Linked DNA regions of Homo sapiens. The protein of the gene in region 3 purifies or fractionates together with the protein of the main gene of each other region. This does not show direct contact. Each region holds a gene or a part of one and is shown on either strand. Other genes may lie near its edges. The genes, in order: DNAJC11, ALKBH5, AUH and MEF2D.

The links.
Region 1: the proteins of AUH (region 3) and DNAJC11 fractionate together in Homo sapiens (co-fractionation; one large-scale study listed by BioGRID). This does not show direct contact.
Region 2: the proteins of AUH (region 3) and ALKBH5 fractionate together in Homo sapiens (co-fractionation; one large-scale study listed by BioGRID). This does not show direct contact.
Region 4: the proteins of AUH (region 3) and MEF2D fractionate together in Homo sapiens (co-fractionation; one large-scale study listed by BioGRID). This does not show direct contact.

The regions. Positions count from the first base shown.
Region 1 is NC_000001.11:6,689,198-6,696,921, forward strand, and holds part of DNAJC11 (dnaJ homolog subfamily C member 11), read right to left. Parts: intron 1-7,724.
Region 2 is NC_000017.11:18,191,454-18,199,177, forward strand, and holds part of ALKBH5 (RNA demethylase ALKBH5), read left to right. Parts: intron 1-3,501; coding exon 3,502-3,582; intron 3,583-7,724.
Region 3 is NC_000009.12:91,350,222-91,357,945, forward strand, and holds part of AUH (methylglutaconyl-CoA hydratase, mitochondrial isoform 1 precursor), read right to left. Parts: intron 7,293-7,724; coding exon of another isoform or gene 7,263-7,292; intron 5,935-7,262; coding exon 5,867-5,934; intron 5,751-5,866; exon of another isoform or gene 5,750-5,750; coding exon 5,662-5,749; intron 1-5,661. UniProt on the Homo sapiens protein: Catalyzes the fifth step in the leucine degradation pathway, the reversible hydration of 3-methylglutaconyl-CoA (3-MG-CoA) to 3-hydroxy-3-methylglutaryl-CoA (HMG-CoA). Can catalyze the reverse reaction but at a much lower rate in vitro.
Region 4 is NC_000001.11:156,473,276-156,476,775, forward strand, and holds part of MEF2D (myocyte-specific enhancer factor 2D), read right to left. Parts: intron 3,240-3,500; coding exon 3,219-3,239; intron 1,963-3,218; coding exon 1,833-1,962; intron 1-1,832. UniProt on the Homo sapiens protein: Transcriptional activator which binds specifically to the MEF2 element, 5'-YTA[AT](4)TAR-3', found in numerous muscle-specific, growth factor- and stress-induced genes.

The DNA.
Region 1 (7,724 bases), on a different chromosome or scaffold from region 3:
AAAAACAAAACCAGAGAGAGCTAAAGGAAACAGCAGCAGAAATTCAAGGCTGAGGTTGTGCGGCCAGCAGCCTGGAAGCTGAAAGGAAATGAAGGATCAGAGTCTGCTGAAGTCCTAGAGGATTCACGGATCTACGGGACAGTTACTGAGTATGAAATGGAAAAGAATCAATGAGCATTCCAGGGTTTTGGCTCGAATATGGGTTAGGGAGAAATTGGGAGGTAGTCAGGCTTGGGGCAGAGGTGAATTTGAACACCTAGGTGGCGTGATGTCCAGAAGGCAGATAGAGATGAAGGGTTGAAGCAAGAGACTTAAAAAGGGGGCTCACGCCTGTAATCCCAGCACTTTGGGATGCTGAGGCGAGCAGATCACCTGAGGTTGGGAGTTCCAGACCAGCTTGACCAACATGGAGAAACCCTGTCTCTGGTAAAGATACAAAAAAACAGCCAGGCATGGTGGCGCATGCTACTCAGGAGGCTGAGGCAGGAGAATTGCTTGAACCCAGGAGGCGGAGGTTGTGGTGAGCTGAGATTGCACCATTGTACTCCAGCCTGGGCAACAAGAGCGAAACTCCGTCAAAAAAAAAAAAAAATCCAAGGAGGTGAGGACTGAACTGGAGAAAGGGCTATGTAAGGAGGACAGGGAATGTGCAACTGGCAAAGTGAAAAGGAAGGACCGAGACGCATCACAGAGCTTTAAAGGCTTGTCAATGGTGTCACAAATGCATTTACACAGATTTACAGCTAACAAAATAATTCCACTATTTCCTCACTTAATACTTTTAATACTCAAAACGCCTTGAGGTTGGTATCAGACTCCCATTTTACAGATAAAAATCCCGAGGATCGGAAAGATCAAGTGACTTATTGAAGATGGAGGAGGAGTTTATTTGGTTATGGACCCCTAACCCGAAAGATTGTTAGAAACTAATAATGTGTAGCCTAACTCAAACCAAACTTAGTTCATGAAAGTGAAAGGCAACATAGAAGGAAGAGGCGTTTACAATATATATATATACCAGATCAACGATTCATCCAAATTATATAAGTAACCAATAAAAGCCTTCCTTATTAATGGCTATGCTCATGACACTAATAGAAATACACGGCATTCATTTGACAGTCGCATATCCACTGCTATGTCAAGCATTTCCATGCACTCCCACTTCATTCCCACAAAAGCTCTACGACAGTAAAACTGTCTGGATTTTCTGGATGAACGGGCTCAGACAGGTTAGGTAATTTGCCCCCCACAAAACCTGCTAGAAACTCAAACTTGGATCTGACTCCTGCGGCTGTGCTCTCTATCTTCACAATGACCCCTTTTGAAGCTCCACCACTGTCCCAGGACATTCAAATCATCACCAATGAATGCTCCTTGATGCTTAAACACGCAAGGGGTGGGCTAGGTGATTTCAGTTGTCCTTCACTTAAAACCCCTGAATTGCCTGGGCGTGGTGGCTCACGCCTGTAATCCCAGCACTTTGGGAGGCTGAGGTGGGCGGATCACGAGGTCAGGAGATCGAGACCATCCTGGCTAACAGAGTGAAACCCCGTCTCTACCAAAAATACAAAAAATTAGCTGGGCGTGGTGGCGGGCGCCTGTAGTCCCAGCTACTCGGGAGGCTGAGGCAGGAGAATGGTGCAAACAAACAAAAACCCTGAATTCTATCACATCTTTGTTGAGGACAGAGGTCAGGCTGACCTACACTGATTTTGGAAGTTTGGCTCCTACAGCCATTTTAGGTTTCACTTTGGAAAGAGCTTAGCAGAGAAATAATCAAATCACAAATGAGTCAGAAAAGCTGAACAAAGAAACAGATAAAACAATTCTAAAAAGTTTCTACAAATAGGAACAATTTTTGAAACTTAAGTGAGTTCTACTTAACACAGAGTTAAGGAAAAAACTTACAAAACACAATACCTCCAAGATGGCAATATAAATTTGAAAAAAAGATTACACAATTAGTAACAACAGAATCCCAAAGACTGAAAAAAAAAAAAAAAAGCAGGAAGCACATCACCTGTAAGGTTTACGGGGCAGAGAAGGAATCAGGTCTTGCAGCACACATCTCGGCTACAATCACAGAATTCAAGAACAAATGGGCCCAAGGTGCAAAAATCCTGACTCCCAATCAGAGGTCATTGCAAGGGCTCAGGAAATCTTCTGCTACCATTGTACAACTTGGTTTTCATTACTCTTCCTGGTCATGTTCATATATATATTTGTTGCCCTTGAGACTAATAGAAAATCAAAAGGCCCCAGTCTCTAGAAACAAGCTCCAGAGTTGCACCAAAATTGATGGCTCAGATCCTATCTTCACAGTAAGAAATCGGCTTATTTCTCCCTAAAAGCCTGACCTTATACCTTCTGTCATTCGTGTTCATCCGTTATACCCTGCCTACTCATGCAGACTTCTTGTGGTTGATCTCTATTGGCTTGGCATTTTACTGCTGAAGAATTTTCTGGCTCCTGTCAACTAGGGAGGGTAGGCTGCACACTCAAAACATGCAGAAGTGGTTCCAACAGTCCATGAGCCAAACAGGAATCCAGCTGTCAGATTTTCATCTCGAAGGAGGTTCCACTCCAAGCTGCAAGCTCCTTCCAGGGACTGCAATCTGTACCAGGCATATGCTGTAACAGTGGTAATAATGCAGCAATGTTCTCAATTGTCTTCTTTTTAAGAAATGTGTGACTCCTTTAAAAAATATATGCTATTTTATTTTTTCATCTGTTGTCTTACATCCTTTCTTAAACAAAGGTGTAAGTAAGTAAAATTAAAATGAAAGGTTAATAAAAAGCAGACAATAAAATTCTACAGCCAAGCAAAGCATGTTGCTCTCATGTCCCGTTTTCCATTGTTTTATTACTAAATTCACAGCAAATACAAAAGTTTTCCATTGAATTCTCTTTAAGAAAGAAAATAAAAGAGGTGTTTTGGTAGATAATGCAAAATTAGAGCATTAACATTTCAAGAAGCAATTGTTTGAAATGCCCAAAGCAGAAAATAACTGGCTTATAGATCATTAAAGAAACACATTGTGAAATGTAACCTCACGTTTGCCAATCACATTATGAGATGACATTGGAAGTGGTGGGGCATCCTCAACAGCCCCCTCCCTGCACACAGGCAGCTTCTCTAAACTCCACTTCCCGGGCACCCTCTTGGGCCCACCCCTGCCCCCAGCTCTGCCTCCTCTCTGCTTGGCTCACAACTATCCTATCTTTACCCCAAACACCCAAAAAATGTTATCCTTGAGCCTGCACCCTACTCCCATACTTAGCCCCAACTTCCAGGAAAGCTCCCTATCCCCATGTCAACTTTCCAGGAAGCACAAGTTCAGAGAGATCACTGTCTTTTAAAAAGAACAAACTCAGTGTTTTGAACAGAAAGTAAAAAATGCTTCAGGAATTTTTTTTTTTTTTTTTTGAGATGGAGTTTTGCTCTTGTTGCCCAAGATGGAGTGCAATGGCACGATCTTGGCTCACTGCAGCCTCTGCCTCCCGGGTTCAAGTGAATCTCCTGCCTCAGCCTCCCATGTAGCTGAGATTACAGGCATTTGCCACCACGCCTGGCTAATTTTTGTATTTTTAGTAGAGATGGGGTTTCTCCATGTTGGTCACGCTGGTCTCAAACTCCCGACTTCAGGTGATCTGCCCGCCTCAGCCTCCCAAAGTGCTGGGATTACAGGCATGAGCCACTGCGCCCAGCCTCTTTTTTTTTCTTTGACAGAGTCTTGCTCTGTTGCCCAGGCTGGAGTCCAGTGGCACAATCTTGGCTCACTGCAACCTCCGCCTCCTGGGTTTGAGCAATTCTCCTGTCTCAACCTCCCAAGTAGCTGGGATTACAGGCGAGCATCACCACACCCGGCTAATTTTTTTTTTTCGTATTTTTAGTACAGACAGGGTTTCGCCATGTTAATAAGGCTGGTCTCAAACTCCTGACCTCAGGTGATCTGCCCGCCTCCGCCTCCCAAAGCGTTGGGACTGTAAGGCGTGAGCCACCACACCCAACCTCAGGAATTTCATAAACTAATGCTTAGCATACATTCTAGCACTATGATTTTTAGTAATATTACAAGTGGATAGCAAAGTTCATCCTTAGCCAGGATGAAGCATACCAAGTATGTCTTTCACATTTTTAAATTTATTTATGTACATGTATGTCTTTCACATTTTTATTTATTGTTATATTATCGTTTAGATGGATTCTTGCTCTGTCGCTCAGGCTGGAGTGCAGTGGTGGTGCGATCTTGCTTCACTGCAAACTCCATCTCCCGGGTTCAACCAATTCTCTTGCCTCAGCCTCCCGAGTAGCTGGGATTACAGACGCCCACCACCACACCCAGCTAGTTTTTGTATTTTTAGTAGAGACAGGGTTTCACCATGTTGGCCAGGCTGATCTCGAACTCCTGACCTCGTGATTCACCCGCCTCAGCCTCCCAAAGTGCTGGGATTACAGGCATGAGCCACCACGCCCAGCCTTTTATTTATTATTATTTTTATAGACGGAGTCTCGCTTTTTATAGACAAAGTCTCGCTCTGTCGCCCAGCCTAGAGTGTGGTGGTGTGACTGCAGCTCACTGCAGCCCCAAACTTCTAGGTTCAAGCAATCCTCCTGTAACCAAGTACCCCCATTTTTTTTTTTTTTTTTTTTTTGGAGACAGAGTCTCGCTCTGTTGCCCAGGCTGGAGCACAGTGGTGCGATCTCTGCTCACGGCAACCTCCACCTCCCAGCAGAGATTCTCCTGCTTCAGCCTTATGAGTAGCTGGGATTACAGGCGCCCGCCATCAAGTCTGGCTAAGTTTTGTATTTTTAGTAGAGATGGGGTTTCACCATGCTGGCCAGGTGGGTCTTGAACTCCTGACCTCAAGTGATCCGCTGGCCTCAGCCTCCCAAAGTGCTGGGATTCACAGGCATGAGCTACCATGCCCAGCCCCATTTTTTCTAAGAGATAGTTTAATTATTTTCTCCTCTCCCCCTTTCCCCGGTACCCTGCTTCCTACTTAGCCCTTTAGAAATGCAAATATAACCTTTCCCCTCCCCCTCACCAGACATCTTCTATGGGGCAAGTTCAGCTAACTACGTGCTCCAAGACGGATCTCTTGACAGTGGATTTGCAGACCAAATCATGTCCCCATGGCCACTTTTACTTCTTTCTGCCCAGGAAGATGCCAACTCAATTGCCAGTTAGATAAAGTACCCAGATAGCAGGGGGACCCCTGCCCTTGCTCATTTCCTCCTATACCTTATAAAAGTGCCTGCTTTCTGCTCTAAAAGTGAAGCGGTACAGCAGGACATCGTGCCCCTTCCCCAAGCTGACTTCAGAGTAAATTCACTGGCTTTGTATGCGCCTCACTCTTGTTAACTGGACTCTGCATGCGGTAAACAACTGACCTGCTTTTCGGCTGCACCTCCACCTTAGGCTGGACTACAGGTTACAGCTCATGCCACCATGCCCAGCTAATTAAAAAAAATTTTTTTTGGCTGGGCGCGGTGGCTCACACCTATAATCGCAGCACTTTGGGAGGCTGAGGCGGGCGGATCACAAGGTCAGGAGATCGAGACCATCCTGGCTAACACGGTGAAACCCCGTCTCTACTAAAAATACAAAAAAAAAAAAAAAATTATCCAGGCATGGTGGTGGGGGCCTGTAGCCCCAGCTACTCAGGAGGCTGAGGCAGGAGAATGGCGTGAACCCGGGAGGCGGAGCTTGCAATAAGCCGAGATCGCACCACTGCACTCCAGCCTGGGCAACAAAGCGAGACTCCGAATCAAAAAAAAAAAAAAAAAAAAAATCAGCTGGGCGTGGTGGCAGGTGCCTGTAGTCCCGGCTACTCGGGAGGCTGAGGCAGGAGAATGGCGTGAACCCAGATGGCAGAGCTTGCAATGAGCCGAGATTGTGCCACTGCGCTCCAGCCTGGGTGACAGAGCGAGACTCTCTCAAAAAAAAAAAAAAAAAAATTTTTTTTTTTAATTAAAGATGGAGTCTTGCTACGTTATGCCAACCCAGGCTGGTCTCAAACTCCTGGACTTAAGTTATCCTCCTGCCTTAGCCTCCTAAGGTGCTGGAATTACAGGTGTGAGCCACCCCCCAATCCTTATGTCTTTTTTTAAAGTAAGCAAAACTTCAAACTTATCAAAATCCAAGAAATAACAATATATATTAACTAAATACCTACTTATGACAGGCAATTTATATACATTCTCAGCACCTAGCAACGCACATACCACACAGGTCATCCTGGCCTACAGTAAGTGCTTAAGCCATTATTACCTGTTACCTACATTCTAACATTAAAGAAACTGATGGCCAGGTGCAGTGGCTCATGCCTGTAATCCCAGCACTTTGGGAGGCCGAGGCGGATGGATCACGACGTCAGGAGTTTGAGACCAGTCTGGCCAACATAGTGAAACCCTATCTCTACTAAAAAAAAAAAAAAAAAAAAAAAAAAAAAAATTAGCCGGGTGTACTGGTGTGTGCCTGTAATCCCAGCTACTTGGGAGGCTGAGGCAGGAGAATTGCATGAACCTAGGAGGTGGAGGTTGCAGTGAGCTGAGATTGCGCCATTGCACTCCAGCCAGGGTGACAGTGTGAGACTCCATCTCAAAAAAAAAAAAAGAAATTGAGAAACAGAAAGGTTAAATTACTAGCGTTGAAGCATAGAACTTCCAGAAGAGTAAAATGGGATTTGAATACTGGACTCCAGCTGCAAAGCCCTACATAGTGGCCTCCCTCTATCCCATTGTTAACTAAGAAGTACTGGTGCCTCCATTCTGCAGGTAAGTAGAGGCTGAGGTTAAATGACTCGTTGAAGGTCACACAAGAGGCAGGCAGCATGGGCTGAAATTCTTGCTTCTCAGCCTCTTGGCTTACAGAACACCCTATGGAATGCAGACATCTGAATAAGTTGTTTTTGGACAACCGAGGCTTAATTCTATGTGCCTGAGGCACACATTTAACTGGAGTCATTATAAATATCAAACTTTAACATAATGTAGTAGATGGAAAATGAAGGAACTGACCTTTTCAGAGCCATCTTTATTTTTTATTAAGACAAAATTAACTGCCCATCATGAAGTTTGATAAGAAAGCAATAAATGTGTAAACACACACCACCTCACTGCTTTAGGTATTTGAGTCGCTCAAATTGGCACAGTTGAGCCTTTTACATGTCAATTTCTGCAGATGGCTGAGTCAGTGGTCCTGATTGGAGGGTCTGCTGTCTCCTTCTTTGTGGGTGACTTTGACCCTAGGACAATCTTGCCAGTGACCAGGGGACCTTCCTCTACTCTTCTAGCCCTTCCTTTCCATCTGCAGCTCAAACTCAACTGTTGGGCCTCACTCTGTGGCTGTAACCTGCAGCTAAGGAAACCCCAACAACACACAATTGTGAAAATAATGATCTACCCTGTACCAGAGAAGGAATGAAAATGCAGGGACTTGGGGTAAACTTTTTACTGGTAGGTGATACTTTTGTACTTCTAGTTTCATGGCTGTTCTGGAAGGATGAAGATCTCAGAACACTGACCTCCATATATGGACTGCAAGAAAAAAACTATTTATTAACAACTTCATTTTTTACTTAACTGTGTTTTTCCAAAAGTGTTTAAAAGTTGAAAAGGAGGATGGCTCCTTAAGGTTAAAACAATTGGGACCAGAGGTCTTCAAACAGGTTACAAACACTGCAAAAATGAAATTCTTTCAAAGACAATGATAAAG
Region 2 (7,724 bases), on a different chromosome or scaffold from region 3:
TCTAGAGCCCTTTGGGGGATGGGGTCAGGGAGCATGCGGGCAGTCAAGCTTTGACAAACATCTGGATTTGCTCCAGAACTGCATTAAGAAAAGTGGTTCCTTGTTGGAGATGGGAAGTCAGGGCCCTTGGTTATGCATATAGCCAAGTCAAACAGATTGATAACACTTGTCAATGGCAGGGAAGGTTGCCTGTAGCCAGCACTGCAGATTCAGGACTTAGAAACGTGCCTCTGGGGCCGAGCATGGTGGCTCACACTTGTAATCCCAGCACTTTGGGAGGCCGAGGTGGGTGGATCACGTGTGATCAGGAGATCGAGACCAGCCTGGCCAACATGGGGAAACAGTCTTCACTAAACATACAAAAATTAGCCTGTAGTCCCAGTTACTTGGGGGTCTGAGGCAGGAGAATTGCTTGAACCTGGGACGTGGAGGTTACAGTGAGCCAAGATCATGCCACTGCACTCCAGCCTGGGCAACAGAGTGAGACTCTGTCTTTAAAAAAAAAAAAAAGTGCCTTTGAGACCTTTGACAGCTCTTTGGGAAAGTATTGTGTGTCTATATGGGACAGTCTTGCAGTCTAGACCCCCATTCCCCCAGTGTGGAATGATAAAAGCATGGGATGAGAACTAGAGTTCCTAGCTCTGGAAATGGGGCCCAGGCGGCCCCCACTACTGGCAGATCCCTGCAGGGGGAGCCCAGACCATGTCTCTTTGGCAGATGCTGAATCCAGGGCTCTGGCTTGCCCCAGGATAGTCCAGGGCCCTCTGACTTTTGTCAGAGTGCTTAGTAAAGATTGTAGGGTGTCAGGCACCCTGCATTATCTGACTTAATTCTCGCAATACCCCTGCAGGTAGGCCTCTCACCACCCCTTTCCAGGAGTGTCAACCAAGTAGTCATATAATGCTGTTTTTCTGCCTGGAAGGGAGGAGGCCCCGTTTTTAAAATCTTGTAATCTTAAAAACTTTAATCTTGTAATCTTTAAAACTGTCCCCATTTTTAAAATCTTGTAATATTAGTAGCAGCAAAAGAATAGCTAAATTATAAAGCATAACAAAATGAATACCCAAGAACCTACTGTTCTCCTTATTACAGATGAAGAAACTGTACAGGTTTTTAGGTTCAGCATGTGATTTAACAAAGGTCACAAAGCTAGTAGGAGACAAAGCTCACATTTGAACCCAGGTCTCTTCAACTCACTAACTCCTGTGTGGTACTTCTCACTGTGGGCTGATGGGTATTAATAGGTATTATGAGAGAAGGTTCTTTGGTAAGTGCTCAAAGTCAGTGGGTTCTTTTGCTGTAGTAATTCTCATGTGCTTTAAATATATTAATGCTTTTTGAAACTCTAATCAGTATTTTACAAATTGATTTCACTGTAGACATTCGTCCACTGTCTTTTTCTTTTTTTTTTTTTTTTTTTTTTTGAGACGGAGTCTCACTCTGTCACCCAGGCTGGAGTGCAGTGGCACTATCTCGGCTCACGGCAACCTCCACCTCCCAGGTTCAGCGATTCTCCTGCCTCAGCCTCTGCGATAGCTGGAATTACAGGCACCTGCCATCATGCCTGGCTTATTTTTGTATTTTTGTAGAGACGGGGTTTCACCATGTCGGCCAGACTGGTTACGAACTCCTAACCTCAGGCAACATGCCCACCTTGGCCTCCCAAAGTGCTGGGTGGGATTACAGGCGTGAGCCACCGTGCCTAGCCTGTCTACTGTCTCTTATGGGACTGGTGTTCATGGAGAAAATTTTGAAAAATTCTTGTCTAGGAGCAGCTTGAGGGAGAAGGTGGATCTATAAAATAAAGGTTTGGGCCGGGCGCGGTGGCTCACACCTGTAATCCCAGCACTTTGGGAGGCCGAGGCTGGCGGATCACGAGGTCAGGAGTTCAAGACCATCCTGACCAACATAGTGAAACCCCATCTCTACTGAAAATAACAAAAATTAGACAGGCGTGGTGGGGTGCGCCTGTAGTCCCAGCTACTTGGGAGGCTGAGGCAGGAGAATCGCTTGAACCCGGTAGGCAGAGGTTGCAGTGAGCCGAGATTGTGCCACTGCACTCCAACCTGGGTGACAGAGTGAGACTGTCTCAAAAAAAAAAAAAATTAAATAAAATAAAGGTTTGTTCTATCCCCAGCATGAGCTCAAATCAGATTTCCAAATCAGAGGTGCTTCCTTAAGGCTGAGCCTGAAGCAGTCTGGCTTTTTATCTCTTGTTGGCTCTTGCATCCAGTTATTAGAGCTGAGGTTTGGCCAGCCTGGCCATCTTGAGGGGTCCTTCCCAGGCCTGCAGTGTTTTTAATAGTTAAGTTTGTGTCTGTACAACTAGCCTTTGAGAAGGGAGCTGATCAGCAGCCATGAGAGAAGGGTTTGTGGTACAGGGCCAGGTAGGGAAACTAAGCCATACTTGTCCTACTAGGCTTGTGGCTGAGTTTCTGGGTGTGTAGAACTGCTGCAGCTCAGTAGAGTAACTTGGAGTGGGAGTATCTTGTGGCTGCCATGCTTCCAGTGATAGCATGTGAGGGGTATAGGAAGCTCAGAGCTTGCTTCCAGAGTTTCAAATTGGAATGACGCTAGCTGAGAAGAGGACAGTCATCTACCCACATTAGTTGGTCTCTGAGCGGTTTTAAAAGTCATGTAACTTGTTGAAAATAAACAGATATCTGAGTATGATGGAAATCCTTTTTTTTTGGGCGGGGGGCAGGGGGTGGGGGTCAGTGGTGGGGACAGAGTCTCGCTCTGTTGCCCAGGTGCAGTGGGCGTGATCTTGGCTCACTGCAACTTCTGCCTCCTAGGTTCAAGCGATTCTCCTGCCTCAGCCTCCCAAGTAGCTGGGATTACAGGCGCCCACCACCATGCCTGGCTAATTTTTGTATTTTTAGTAGAGATGGGGTTTCGCCATGTTGGCCAGGCTGGTCTCGAACTCCTGATTTCAGGTGATCCGCCCACCTCGGCCTCCCAAAGTGCTAGGATTACAGGCATGAGCCATCACGCCCAGCCGGAAATTCTTAAAATATTCAAACACAACTGTCTTCAAAATTTTGGATCCCCCCAAATGGAGACTTCATGTAGATATTCTATTTTGGAATGAGGCAGTCCTAGCTCTCCCTGGTGACTCAGTGCTATCAGTGGCTGCCTTGGCTTTCTCTACCTGCTAAATGGAGGGAGAATGAGGAGGAGCTACAGTGTACTCTCTGGAGTACCCTTTTAAAAAAGGGTTCCTGGCCTGTTCAGGGAGAGTCTTGCTTCCAGCCTCTGCCTTAAGTGGCCAAGGGGTCTCCTTTGTGTCATACCAGGTTTTTCCTTGAGTATTACAGTCTCTTGGCAAAAGCATCCTGGAACTTAATATGATATTCCCTTCCATGTAGATCCTTGAAACTCTCAAGTAATGGGTAGAGAGCAGCCGTAAGACCTAGGCCATGTTCCTGTCCTGTTATATCCCCCAGGAACTTTGGTTGTCTGTCTACTCTTCATGGTCACATGTTCTGTGTTTCTTTTCAGTGGATATGCTGCTGATGAAATCACTCACTGCATACGGCCTCAGGACATCAAGGAGCGCCGAGCAGTCATCATCCTCAGGAAGTAAGTGCCTTGATGTCTGACCTTCTGCCTCACCTGCAGGCCTGTCTGGAGATGTAGCTCTGGGTCCACTTAGAACTCAGCTCCTATGTATCAGTGGCATGGCAGAGTGGAGAGCAGAACTGTTAAGTTCTCTTTTTATTTGAATCCTGTGAGGATAAAGTTGTTTTGTTGTTTTATCAGAAAATTAAGTACTCTATTTAGGGAGTTTAGGACTGAGCAAAAGCATATACGCCCAATATTTGTGGGTATAATCTTGAGACAAGATTTGGGCAACATTCTTCCAAACCTCACCCCACCCCTTAGCCTCTATTCCTCACCTCCTTCGTTCTTATTTGTTACACGTACTCTTGGTGATTATTTTTAGACTGTGCCTTTAGCAGCCTGCTTTAAAAATGCCTGGGTTTTCACTGCTGGAAGGAACAGGGAGTGAAGAGAGGAGACAAGGGTGGGAGGTTAGGATGTAGTATTCGGCAGAATCATGGCTTGTGGCTCTTCTCTGGGGAGGGAATCAGGGATGTGCTACTTAACATCAACAAACCTGGCTTCACCAGCATTTATTTCTTTCACGGGGTGAGTGGAAGAAGCCATAGCCTCACAGACATTGGATCAAGACAAGCCTTGCCCCACTGTCCACCCATCTTGCTCAGGCTGGAATGCAGTGGTGCCATCATAGCTCACTGCATCCTCAAAGTCCTGGACTCAAGCTCTCTTCCTGCTTCAGCCTCCCCAGTAGCTGGGAATAGAGGCAAGTGCCACCATACCTGGTTCACGCCTACCTTTTGAATAGAGTCCCAGAGAAGATAGGTGATTGCCCAGAGTCATAGAAGTCAGTGAGCAGAGCAAAACAAGCACGTAAACTTAGGCTTGACCCATAAAACTTGCTGTCTGTCGTCTTCTTCCTTCCTTCCTTTTATTAAACTTTATTTTTTAGAATAGTTTTAGATTTACAGACAATTGTGATAGTACAGAGTTCTCATGTACTCTGCATCCCATTTCTCCTATTTGTTAATTTTTTATTGGTATGACTAAAGTCCATACTTTATTTAGATTTCCTTAGGTTTTTCCTAATGTCCTTTTTCTGTCCCAAGATCATCCTACGTTACATTTAGTTGACATATCAACTCAGACTCCTCTTAGACTCCTCTTGGCTGTAACAGTTTCTCAGACTTTGCCTTATTCTTTTTTTTTTTTTTTTGAGACAGGGTCTCACTCTGTCGCCTAGGCTGGAATAGGCGGGAATGCAGTGGCACCATCTCGGCTCACTGCAACCTCTGCGTCCCAGGTTCAAGTGATTTCGTGTCTCAGCCTCCTGAGTAGCTGGGACTATAGGCGTGTGCCACAACACCCAGCTAACTTTATTTTTTCGTACAGATGGGGTTTCCCCCATGTTGGCCAAGCTGGTCTCTAACTTCCAACCTCAAGTGGTTCACCTGCCTTGGCCTCCCAAAGTGCTGGGATTACAGGTGTGAGCCACCATGCCCAGCCTGCCTTATTCTTGATGATATTGACTGGTTAGGTATTGTATAGAAAATCTCTCAATTAGAATTTGTCTGATGTTTTTATGGTAAAGTGTATGCCATTTTTACTACATAACCAAGAATATATACTATCAATGTAACTTAACACTATTGATATTGATCATCTGGCCAATGCACTGTCAGGTTTTCCACTGTAAAATTACTGTTTTTCCTTGTCCATACTGTACCCTTAGGAAGGAAGTCACCATGCATGCCCACAGTTAAAGAGTGTGGGAGTTAGCACCATCTCCTTGAGGGGGAGCATGCAGGTGAATTACTTAGAATTCTTCTGCAGGGGGGATTGGTCTACTCTCCTTCATTTATTCAATCATTTATTTATATAAGTATATTTTTTATGTAAGTATGGACTCCTAGGAATTTATTTTATGCTCAAATTCTTCCAGCTTTGGTCATTGGGAATTTTTTCTGGTGCATCAACTTTAGTCAGTAAACAATAACTTTGGCATCCTGGTCCTTTGGGCCCATAACTCCAGAATATTGTAGTGGTGAAGTCTCTTTGGTATGGCTTTGCCACTTTGCCAAGTCAAAACTTTTAGTCTGTTTTAACTATAGTAGATGGGTATGATCCATATCTGTGGGACAGTCCTATGGTACAGGCAGAGCAGTGAACACGTGGGAGCTCCAGAAACTTGGGTCAACTTGGTGGGGTTGGCAGCCTCTCTTTTCTAGCCTAAGACTGTTCCCAGAATTTGTCAGAGGAAGGGAAGAGTTTTTATCTGCCTTGTACTTTATTTTTCTGTGATAACCAGCATAGGCAAGAACTCGGAAACAATGGAGTCCAGAGTGTAGCACTCTTCCAGCCTCTCCTCCAGTCATTTCTTCTCAGGCTGTACCTGGTACCTCCAACTGCAGCCAGGGATGGGTGGCCTGCCCAGGCCAGGAACCTGGAGAGGAACTTCTAATGTTACATAGAACCAGAGCAGTAACTTCCCAAGAGTTCCTCTCATCTTCCCATAATAGCTTATTTTGGGGAAATCTTAGTTGGATGTGCAGGTGGTAGTGGCCATAGCTGGAGTGTCAGTCTTCCAGCTGCTACTCTTTTATTGAATGGTGACTCCCATACCTGGCCGCCCAGTCCAACTGAGTCAGATGCTCCTCAGCACAGCTAGGAGTCTGCACCGTTAATCAGCTCCCTGGGAAGCTTTTCAGCCAGCTAGGTCCCTGCCAGTGGCCTGACCTTGGGAATGGCTGTTACTGGGTGACTGAAGCTCTTCTACCTTCTGACTTCAGTGGGCCCAGGAACCATTCACAGACTGGGCTGGAGTGCAGAAGCACAGAGCTGTGGTGTAAGGGGACTGGAGAAGAGTGGGAGGATGTCCCAGCTTCCCCAGGTAGCTGAGCTGGGGAAGTGCACAGCTGTGGGGAACTCTAAAGTATCTGCAGCTCCTGTTATGGTTTATGGATTTGTGCCTGGGCTCTTGTGGCAATGTGGCCTCCATTGGGCATACCTTCTCATCTAACATGTTCATCCTCTGATTCATATCCCAACTCCCCAAATAAACCTACATGATAACCAACTCCTCAGATAACCTAGTCATTCTTCATCGTTCAGATTGACCATTTTGACATGCAGAAAGCATCATATAAAAAGCCCTTTAGCTTTTTAGCATCACCTAAAGCCCTTTCAGCACACATGCAGACACATACACACACCCCTGTTTGGACTGTCACAGCTCATACGCTTGCCATTGTGAATTTTCAAATCTGCATTCTGTAGGAGTAAGGAGATCCCTGTTCATCTGGGGCCTAGCATGAGGTGCAGCCCAGAGGAGGCATCAACTAGTGTGGAGAACAATTCAGGCCGGTGAGGAGCAGCTCCAGAGTAGCTACATGGGTTTGTCTTGGGAAAGGACGGGTTGTGACAAGTTTAAAAAGGGGAGCATCTTGGCCCAGGCATTGCCCGGAGATAAGTATGATGTGGCCTTGGAAGATACCTGGCTGGTTTGATGTCTTCTGGTGAGGTTGTGTTACAGTGGGTAGAATCTGGGCATTGAGCCTGGCCCTGATTATGGTAGAGGAGTTAGAGCCGGTCCTGCCTTCTCATAAGTTCAGATAAAGATTGCACAGGCTGCTGGTGGAGACCCTGGGAGCTCTGTCACCAGCTCAGGTCAGTCAGAGCTGGAAAGGTCTTTCTAAGGGCCTCACGGAAGGAAATGGGTGGGCAGCTGCCAAGTGCTTTCTGGTTGGACAGAACGCAGCTTCTGTGAACATGGGTGGTGCCAAGTCTTCATGCACATGTGCCCTTGTTTCTTACGGGGAGGCTGGAAGTAACCTTTTAAAAAAGTCTCCCCAGAGTGGAATCCTCAGACTGTCCCTTGGTGTTATAATGTTTGGGGTCACAACTTAGCCAGTAAATGGCTGAGTGACACCTGGAACCTGGGTCTTGTGGTTCGTTGGTGGTTTGCACAGTGGAGTACCCCAAGTCCTGCCCTTTCCCCCAGTGTGTCGTTGGGATGGATGCTTTGAGTTAGGAAACTGGAGCTCAGATATAGAAGGGCTTTCTTGCCTCTGCTGTGCAAGTAGAGAGTTGTGCTGATTGGGGAGAATGTTATGAGTATGTAGGGGGCACTCTACAGAGAGTGGGGTGAGGCAGCAGCTACAGGC
Region 3 (7,724 bases):
TAGGGCCACTAAAATGTCTAAGTGTATAAAATTTTAAGAACTTTAAAGAGACACCTCATATTCCTTCTAGGTTCTAGATTAGAAACCACAGTCTAAGAGAAAACTCTGTCCTAACTGTCAAGAGAAGTAGTTTCAGCTAAGCCACCACCTTTAACCAGGTCTTTCACTTCACAGGGATTCTATAAAATTAAAGGGTCTGAATTATTCTATAGGAACTCTTTTAGTCTAAAATTTATCTTCTCAAATGTTGTAATGGGTCGGGCACAGTGGCTCGCGCCTGTAATCCCAGCACTTTGGGAGGCCGAGGCAGGTGGATCACTTGAGGTCAGGAGTTCAAAACCAGCCTGGCCAACATGGTGAAACCCCGTCTCTACTCAAAATACAAAAATTAGCTGGGCATTGCAGCAGGTGCCTGTAATCCCAGCTACTCGGGAGGCTGAGGCAGGAGAATCACCTGAACCTGAAAGTCAGAGGTTGCAGTAAGCAGAGATCATACCACTGCACTCCAACCTGGGTGACAGAACATGATTTCATCTCAAAAAAAAAAAACAAAAAGAAAGTTGTAACAACAATTTAGGAACTCAGTTAATATCCCAATTTTAGTTTCCAAAAAAAGAAAAATACACTAATATACTTTGTATTTTTCAAAATTATTTACTTTGCATATATTTGCTTAATATAATTTGTTAATATAACGAAGTTATTTCAGAAAGTTTGAAGACAGAAAAAATATCACCTTTAATCCATGATCTTTTTTTTTTCATTTTTTCAAACAGGGTCTCGCTCTGTCACCCAGGCTGAAATGCAGTGGCACAATCACGGCTCGCAGCTTTGATCTTCCAAGCTCATGCGACTCTCCCACCTAAGCCTCCTGAGTAGCTAGGACTACAGGCACGCACCACCATGCCTGGCTAATTTTAGTATATTTTTGGAGAGACAGGGTTTTGCCATGTTGCCCAGGCTGGTCTTGAACTCCTAGGCTCAAGCCAACTGCCTACCTCGGCCTCCCAAAGTGCTGGGACTACAGGTGTGAGCCACCTGGCCCATGAACTTATTGGCACAGACATAGTTTACACAGCTACAGTAATAATGGCCATAACATTTTATATACAACTCTCTCTATGCTTGTAACAGGTTATTTTCCACACTCCATGTATATCACTTTATAAGTATCGTATTTATATGTCTTTATATGTATGACTTTAAATATCTACTTAACATTCTAATGAGCGCATCGGTATATAATAAGTCACTTAAAGAGAACATCCTGGTAGAGTCCTTAGAAAATTTCATCCTTGTATAAACATCATTGAGTATATATACACAAACCTAGATGGTATAGGCCAGGGGTCCCCAACCCGAGTTGATGAATGGTACTGGTCTGTGGCCTGTTAGGAACCGGTGACACAGCAGGAGGTGAGCACAGGCAAGGGAGCATTACTGCTTGAGCTCTGCCTCCTGTCAGATCAGCAGCCGCATTAGATTCTCATAGGAGCACAAACCCTACCGTGAACTACGCATGCGAGGGATCTAGGTTGCACGCTCCTTATGAGAATCAGGCCAAGGTGGCCTGATGATCTGAGATGGAACAGTTTCACCCTGAAACCATCCCCTACATAAATAGGATATATGGTATAACATATTTCTCTTAGGCTACAAACCTGTACAGTGACTGTATTGAATGCTGTAGGTAACTGTAACACAATGCTAAGTATTTATATGTACCTAAACAGAAAACGTACAGTAAAAATACAGTATTATAATCTTATGAGGCTGGGCACAGTGGCTCACCCATGTAATCTCAGCACTTTGGGAGGCCTAGGCAGGTGGATCACCTGAGGTCAGGAGTTCAAGACCAGCCTGGGCAACATGGTAAAAACCCCATCTCTACTAAAATTACAAAATTTAGCTGGGCATGGTGGCACACACCTGTATCCCAGCTACTCAGGAGACTGAGGCACGAGAATCGCTTGAACACTGGAGGCGGAAGTTGCAGTGAGACAAGATCACACCATTGCACTCCTGCATGGGTGACAGGGAGACCCCGTCTCAAAAAAATAAAAACAAATAATCTTATGGGACCAGCATTGTATAATGCAGGCTACTGTTAACCAAAATGTTGTTATGGAGCACATGACTGTATTTGTGTATATATATACATATATATAAAATAAAGTAAAATACTAGGACAAAAATAATAATTATTTATATTAGGGGATGAATAAAGTAGAGGAAGTAGGGTTAGAGAGAGTTCTCTCTGTATACATTTTCATACATTTTGACCTACCATGCTACTTTTTTAAACTAAAAATTGATTAAAAAACTTAAAATGTAAGTGAAGTACTTAATAATGCTAAATAATAGATTTCTGAGAAGTCAGAAATCACTTGGCCCAACCTCCAATGCAATGTAGGAATCTCTTTAATGTTTATCTGTTTTCCTAGCATTTTAGAAAAAAGATGTAGCCAAATTTACTATCAGTAAATAGGAGAGTGGTATGAGACAATTCAGAGAAGCTGCTTATTATATCCCAACCATTCCTGAAAAAAATCAGTGAATTAAAGCACAGTTTAAAGGCTGATTAATTCCAGCAAATAAATGCTGAGTCCCTGTTGTTTGCTGTGTTCTGAGAATGTAAAAGATGATTCTCAAAGAATAAGAGGAGTTCCTATGCTCAAGAAATTTGAGGCAAGACCATTTGCTAAGCTTTAAATATTTAGAAATGAGCAAGGTATCACTGGAATACAGTATTAATATATACAGAGAAACCTTTGTGGGAGAAGAAAAAGAAGAGGGAAAATGATGACTTTCAAGGGATGGAGAAGAGGCTAAAAGGATAATCAATAAACGGTACACTGTGTTTTTGAGGTTTCTTTTTTTTTTGAGCCGGAGTCTCACACTGTCACCCGGGCTGGAATGAGGTGGCGTCATCTCGGCTCACTGCAACCTCTGCCTCCCAGGTTCAAGCAATTATCCTGCCTCGGCCTCCTGAGTAGCTGGGATTACAGGCACCTACTACCACGCCCAGAAAATTTTTTGTATTTTTAGTAGAGACAGGGTTTCACTATGTTGGCCAGGCTGGTCTCGAATTCTTGACCTTGTGATCCACCCACCTCGACTTCCAAAGTGCTGGAATTACAGGCATGAGCCACCGCGCCCAGCAGAGGTTTCTTTTAATATTACTACTTTGGAGTACAAATTAAAGCTTTAATTATGTGAAAGACCACATTCCTCAACAATAACTGATAAATGTGGCCTGATTAAGATGTTTATACTAATATAGGCTGTAAGTTTAAATATTCTTTAAATAATGTAAAGAGATTTTATTTACCTATAATTTTATTTCATATGTACATGTTAAAAGACAGACCTCTTTGGGAGGCCGAGGTGAGCGGATCACGAGGTCAGGAGATCGAGACCATCCTGGCTAATACAGTGAAACCCTGTCTCTACTAAAAATATAAAAATTAGCCGGGCTTGGTGGCGGGCGCCTGTAGTTCCAGCTACTCGGGAGGCTGAGGCAGGAGAATGGGGTGAACCCAGGAGCCGAGATCGTGCCACTGCACTCCAGCCTGGGTGACAGAGCAAGACTCCGTCTCAAAAAAAAAAAAAAAAAAAAAAAAAAGACAGACCTACTGGTCAGCTTATAAATGTAAATACATGTAAAAAAGAGGCCATGTGTGGCCTGTAATTCCAGCCCTTTGGGATGCCGAGGCAGGTGGATCACCTGAGGTCAGGAATTCAAGACCAGCCTGGCCAACATGTTGAAACCCCGTCTCTAGCAAAAATACAAAAATTTAGCCAGGCGTGGTGGCGGGCATCTGTAATCCCAGCTACACGGGAGGGTGAGGCAGGAGAATCACTTGAACCCAGGAGGCAGAGGCTGCAGTGAGCCAAGATCGTGGCACTGCACTCCAGCCTGGGCAACAAGCGTGAAAGTCCGTCTCAAAAAAAAAAACAAGAAAGGAAAACCTTTCGGAGAAATCTGAAAGAACAGTTCCATCATATACACTGAATTACTAAAAGAGAATGATATGCCCCAATTTTTCTATAATTAAGACACTGACTTTTGTTGACAAAATACAGTCACAAATCTTGAGTTAAAAGATTATCCTGATTGTACGAAAGTTTAAAAGCACATAAAGCAAAGTAAATAGATTAAATTAACTTGTTAAAAAGTACTCAAGGCTAACATGTTATTCTAATAAACAGCATGTGGTATATTATTTGAGGACATTTTGCATGTCCTCAAAAAGGCAATCTGTAACAGACATCCACAAACTGTGCTAAAGCATTAAAGCTTTTTTCAAAGTATATTCCTAATGCAGAAATCTAGAACAAATGGGCTGCAAAAGAATATGTAAAATAAAAAGAATTCCACCAGTAACTATAGTGCAATAATTATAAAACCTACTGCCAACAGAAAAACAATGCCGGGATGACCACTAACACTTATTTTTAAAATGTTAATCTGTCTTCACAACATTGATATCACTCCTCAAAAATTCATATAATTGGGCCTTCTTTAAAAACCCTAAAGCTACTCTGTATCTTCCCAATAAGCCATCCAATGACCTTTAGAGAACCTCTCAACCATCAGTCATGTGTTATACTCCTTTACCTCAAGATCATATTCACCTGGTGAATATGATCTAGACATAAGAATCCTAATTCTCTTGATATAAGTCTTTCACATTGTTTAAAAAAACAAAGAACTCAAAATATACATAAAACCCTTATAAGCACTCCTACTAAGCAGACAGTATTACTCACATTTGACAAATGTGAAAACAGAAATCTGTACTGCATAACACCATAACCCTAGCAGCTGGGAGTAATAAACCTACACTCTTTGGTTACTCAACTGGAATTAAAACTAATTCTTTTCGGTATCCTACATTTTAAGAAATGTATTAAGGAGGCAATAAAACCTTATCAAAAGCCAAAATACACTGCATATTTCTAAATATCACACTATTCTGCAATATTTTAAGGCAGAAGCCACAGAGATTGAAGCTTTAAAAAATTGAGAATCCTTAAGAATGAAACTAGGGGCCAGGCACAGTGGCTCACCCCTGTAATCCCAGCACTTTGGAAGGCCAAAGATGGTGGGTCACTTGAGGTCAGCAGTTCGAGACCAGCCTGGCCAACATGGTGAAATCCTGTCTCTACTCAAAATACAAAAATTAGCTAGGCGAGGTGGCAGGCGCCTGTAATCCCAGCTACTCGGGGGGCTGAGGCGGGAGAATCACTTGAACTGGGGAGACGAGGGTTGCAGTAAGCGAAGATCACGCCACTGCAGCCTGGGTGACAGAGCAAGACTCTATCTCAAAAAAAAAAAAAGAATGAAACTAAAGAATATTGGCCACAATTAAGACACAACAAACAACATTGTACTACATGTACTACAGGTACTACAAACAAGTATTTTAATGGCTCAAAGATTTTTTTTCAACTTCCAAAACAATCTAAATGTTGCAAAAGCTTCTTTCTAATGCTGACAGACTAAGCATGTTTTTTTCTTGTGAATCAGTAAAACACAGACAAAGAGGAGTTGTTGGTAATGGGGTTCAAACCAAAGAACATTCTAATGGAAAACAGATTACTATTGAGGAAAAATCAGACTACAGTTTAATTTCATAATACAACATATTTACATACCAGCACAGAATATCCCTGGGACTTCACTCCTGATTATTATGGTCCGTACTTTCTTATCAGATTTCAAAGCATCCACAGCTTTTGATAGCTAAACAGAAATAGGAAGCATAGGAGGAAAAAGAGAAAAAAAAAACAAAACATTTTTACATTGATGACAATAATATATCTTAATATTAGAAGCAAACAGTTTAATCTTTACACTCACCATTTTTATAAGATTTTTACTGAGTGAATTTTTGCCATAAGCTCTGTTTATTCCAAGCACCACAATTCCTAGTTAAAGGGGAAAAAAAGTACAAGCACTTGAGTGAGCAAGGCATTCAGAGAACAGACTCTACATCACACATCTAGCTAGCTTCGAACTTAACAAATCAAAGAAATTCATGACATCACGTTCCCTTCAATCGATCTCTTCTTAAGCACCAAGATAATTTGCAACATTTTGGTAAATTTTACATCACTAACTCAAACTAGAGGGAAGACTAGACTTATTAGTGAAAATTTTAAGTTAAAGGATACTATTTAAAATGTGGTTTCATCATCTTCAAGTAGATACCAAAGTAACCGCTAATAAACCTTGTCACATGCAGGTATTATAGCATCTGCTTTTTCTAGGACCAGTTGTTAATATCTCCATTTTTTTGTTGTTCATACTACACAGTTTTCAGTAATTCTATCCCAAGCTTCTCTCCTGATTTCTGTCTGATATACTTAACCTGAGGGCACTTCCATTTAGATGTCCAAGAAGTACTTCCAACTCAACCTATACAAAACAAAGTTCATTATCTCTCCCACAAACCCAGCTGTCACTCCTAACTGCCCCACTTTTTAATCAAAGACCATCACCTAAACCCAGCCTCCCATTCCTTCCAGTTACCAATTTTCTAAAAACAGTACTATGCATAGAATGCATCCCCTACTTAAAATCCTTTCATTATTTATTTCAAAATATCCAACTTCAAAGATCCTAATTTGATATTCAAAGTTCTACACAACCTCTACTAACCTTCTTGTTCTTGGAGTAGACAAATTTTCACAGTGTATCAGAAATACCTTCCACTGAGTCAGGGTGGGTATGTTTCTTATTTGCAACTGAGCTAAACTGAAGACAACAAAATGTACACATGCCTTCGCTGTGCAAGAAACTGTGCAGACCCATTCTTTAAAGTATAAAGATGAACTTCTGCTCACAAGAGTAAATTTGCAAGAATTCCAAATGCTCTCAGTACAGAGAAAAGCATAAAGGACTGCTATCTGACAGGATCTGTATTAAACAGCTGAATGACTTTGGGTAGGTCCCAATACTACTGACAACAGCTACCACCAGTAGGCCTCAGGCACTGCTCCAGGTGCTTTAAGCGAATTAACTCATGTAATCCCCACCACAACCCAAGAGGTGGGCACTACTTTTATCAATAGTTAACGGATAAAGAAATGGAGACTTGGAGAGGTGAAGTAACTTCCTTCAGCTATTAAGTGGTAATCTAACTCTATACTTGAATAAAACTGTGTTACACTGTTCAAGCTTCAGTTTCCTCAGGAAGAAAATCAAGCAGCTAAGACTAGATGTGTCCATTCATTCAAACATACTGAGTACGTACTATAGTGATCAGCAGCCATGGAACTAGAGTCTAGGAGGGAAATACAAACATTAATAATCATAGAAATCATTAATAATCATAAATATCATTAATAATCCATTCAAACTGCTTTACAAGCTGTAAGTGGTGCTACAGTAACTTGTAACCAGAATTGATAATGGTCTGGGGCAAAAGGAGATGGTTAGGGAAAGCTTACCCCAGACAGTGAAGGTTAGAAGGATAAGTAGGAGTCAAGGTGAGAGTGAAGGAGAGGGGCTGACTGCCAGGCAGAGGAAACAGGAAAAGCATAAACTAGTCATGGTCCCACTGAATGTCCTGTAACCTACGAGGGGGAGAAGAGAGTGACCAATGAAAGTAAAGAGGTCAGCACAAGCCAGAAATATCCTTACAGACCTTCTAAAAAGTCTGGTCTTCATCCTAATAACCATTGAAGGAGTTTACGTAGGTATAAACATATACACA
Region 4 (3,500 bases), on a different chromosome or scaffold from region 3:
AAGTGCTGGGATTACAGATGTGAGCCACCACGCCTGGCCTGGGTTCTGGATTTTTACATGTGGGGAGGAGGTGGGATTTTGTGGTTATTTGCACTGGTGGCTGGTTCAACTCTGGGAGGCTTGGGGAAGGGGGAGAAGTTTATGAGTCTTTTGGTCCAGACTAAACTCATCAAAGGAACTGGCCTGACATAACCATTCACATGTGAGAGAACCTGAGGAAGGCAGAGGTCTCTAGCTGGAAATAGCCCAGGTTCCCCAGCCACATGAATGCTCTGAAACAAGGGGACAAGGCGTTTCCTTACTGGCAAGTCCTTCTTGACACAGTGGCTTAGCATACAGGCAAGGATGGCTGAGAGTATCACAGACTGTTCCTGCGCAGGTGTGAGTGGGTGGGTGACACAGGCCAGGATGGCCCTAGGGACCCAGGACAGCCCGCGCACTGGGTGTCCTATCTGAATTCTTCTATCCAGAGACCTTTCTCATGTCCTTAAGTGGCTCTTTACCTTCAGATCCCCTCTCTAACCTTCTTCCCTCTTCTTCCTTCCCCAATCATCATTCCACCACCATGCCAAAACTAGAGGAGAGACGCTGTTCTTCCCCCTCCGCCTTGCCCTGGAGCCCCCATTTGGCTTTCCCAGGAAGCTAGCAAACTGACCCTGACTGTGCTTTCTCTCTGGCCTCCTCAGCCTCCTTGTCTCTTTTCTCTTATTCCTTCATTCTCTTCCAGGAAGCTTTTCTGAACTGACCACGTCCCCCTCACCACTCCCCATACCTGCAGCCTAGAGATTGGTCAGCCTGAATGATCTGCAGACCTGCCTCTGTCCTGTCTCGTCCTCAGGCTGCAGGCTTTCTGAGGACAGGGGCTCCCTCCTCCATTAAGTACTTTTTAAAAAATAAACAATGCTGGCCAGGCACAGTGGCTCATGCCTGTAATCCCAGCACTTTGGTGGATCACTTGAACTCAGGAGTTTGAGACCAGCCCAGGCAACATGGCAAAAACCTATCTCTACTAAAGATACAAAAATTAGCTGGGCATGGTGGCGCATGCCTGTAATCCCAGCTACTCAGGAGGCTGAGGCATGAGAATCACCTGAACCCAGGAAGAAGAGGTTGCAGTGAGCCAAGGTCATAACACTGCACTCCAACCTAGGTGACAAGAGTGAGACTACCTCAAAAAAACAAAAACAACAAAAACCAATGCCTAGTTAAATTTGAATTTCAGATGAAACAATACATAATTTGTTAGCATGAGTATGTCTTTGGTGCTGGGCACAGTCGGTAACACAGCACTTTGGGAGACTGAGGCAGGAGGACTGCTTGAGACCAGGAATTTGAGACTAGCCTGGGCAACAGAGAGACCTTGTCTGTACAAAAAAAATGTAAAAAGAGCCAGGCATGAAGGCATGTGCCTGTAGTCCCAGCTACTCAGGAGGCTGAGGCAGGAGGATCACTTGAGCCCAGGAGTTCAAGGCTGTAGTGAGCTAGGATGGCACCACTGTACTCCAGTCTGGGTGACAGAGTGAAACCCTGTTCCAAAAAAGAAAAAAAAAACAAACCCAAAAATAAAATATGTCTTTGGGACATACATTAGCAGAAGAATGTCTTTGGGACATATCTGTACTAAAAAACTACTTGTTTTATCTGAAATTCAAATTTAAAAGCATTCTGTGCTTTTATTTGCTAAACCTGTTAACCATAAGTAGGTGGGGGTTCCCCCAAATCAGTAGCCCTCCTCAGATGTGGCCTGTCCAGGGGATAACTAGCATTTCTGTCTGGTCACTTGCCTGCCCCAAGCCCAAGTGCACACATGCACATGTCACATGAACACTCACCTGTGTTGTAGGCAGTGGGCATGGAAGAGAAGGGGAGGCCCTGGCTGAGTAAACTCGGCGTTGCCACAGAAACCACTGGGGTGGTGAGCGAATGAGTAGACTGGGAGACCCCAAGGCGCTGGGCATTGTTCTGTAGGAGAAAACTGTCCGTCAGGAGGTGGCTGACAGGTGGGCAGCTTTATGTTGGCCCTCCATCCCAAGGCCAAGGTGGGGTTCCTGAATCCCAAAGCCAAGGCGGGGTGCCTTAGCACGGAGGCCCCCACAGATATACAAACACACGTTGGTGCATTCACAGAGACACTCAGATCCATGGAGGGAAACATGCACACACAGATTCACTGACACCAACACACGTGCAAAGATGAAGGCACGTGTACTGGCCCTGTGGCCCCAGCACCAACACTCGCCCAGCCTCCCAGTGCAGAGTGAGGGAAGGGAGACATCGTCCATCCCCTGTCTCTCTGGAGCCCACTCTCCATCCATCACACTGCAGCACACGCCCCGGCAGAGGCGTGCTGGCATCTGCGAGGGGAATGTGGGGCCTGGCGTGGCGTGTGCCTGCGCGTATGCACACACGTGTGTGGGGCTGTCAGCTCCATCTGCCGCTGAGTCACTTGTTTATTCCAACTCCATGCTGGGGCCGAAACTGCCGCCGTGTTGGCCGCCAAAGCCTGCCTGCCTTTTCCAGCCTCTCTGGCCTCCCGTCAGGGAGTTAGGGAGGGAGGAGCCCCCGCCCCACTCCTGGCTGGGGGTGAGTATGTAAGTGTGTGAGACAGAGGAGGAAAATGAGCAGCTGTGCATGCCTCTGAGTGCCCGTGTCATGGACTTAAGTTCAGGAGGGAGCACAGGGAGACAGGGGAGGTGGGAAGCTGCCACCAAGAAGGACAAGTCCAGCCTGGGCCTGGGCCTTGGCTTCCCCTGAAACACCAGCTTCTCCTTCCAGCTGACCTCCCTCCTAAGAAGGATCCTGTCCTGGATCCCAAGAATGCAGTGTGGGCCTGAGTGGAGTCAGAGGACTAGTGGGATCCAGCCCCCTAGTCCAGGGCCTAGTCCAGGCATCAGGGTGGGACCTCTGAGCCCTGGGCTGGCCCACTCCCCCTCGCACACGTACATACAGAGAAAGGTGTGTCTGAATGAACATAATACCACATGCAGACATTCATGTACACACAGGCACACACACACACGTCTGACCTCTCACCCCCACCCCATTCACCTTTGAATCCCACTTGGCACCTAAGCACAGCTCCTGGCAACTAAGCAAAGAAACAGCAACAGTTCACGCACAGGCGAGAGGCCAAGGACGCACACGTACTTCATGCTGGGGGACCGCAGAGCAATACCCAGAATTCAAAGCCACAGCAAAGAGCTCACAGCCTCACTTACCAGATCTAAATGGTCCTCAGTCTGAGAGCAGAAATAAAACCAAGGGGATGTTCAGTCTCTGGCCGCTGCCCTCCCCCACACCTCTGTCCCCACAGCTGTTCCAGTCACCTCTCTGCATAAGAGTAGGGTGGCTCTACCCAGCCTACAAAGGCAGAGCTCTCCACCGTCCTGACTCATTTCCAGAGATGCTCCATCCCAATCTCCACCAGTGAGGAAATGCTCACCATCTAATCCCCATCCCTCCTGCTATAGTGGCAAATCCTTTCTATGATCCTCCCCACC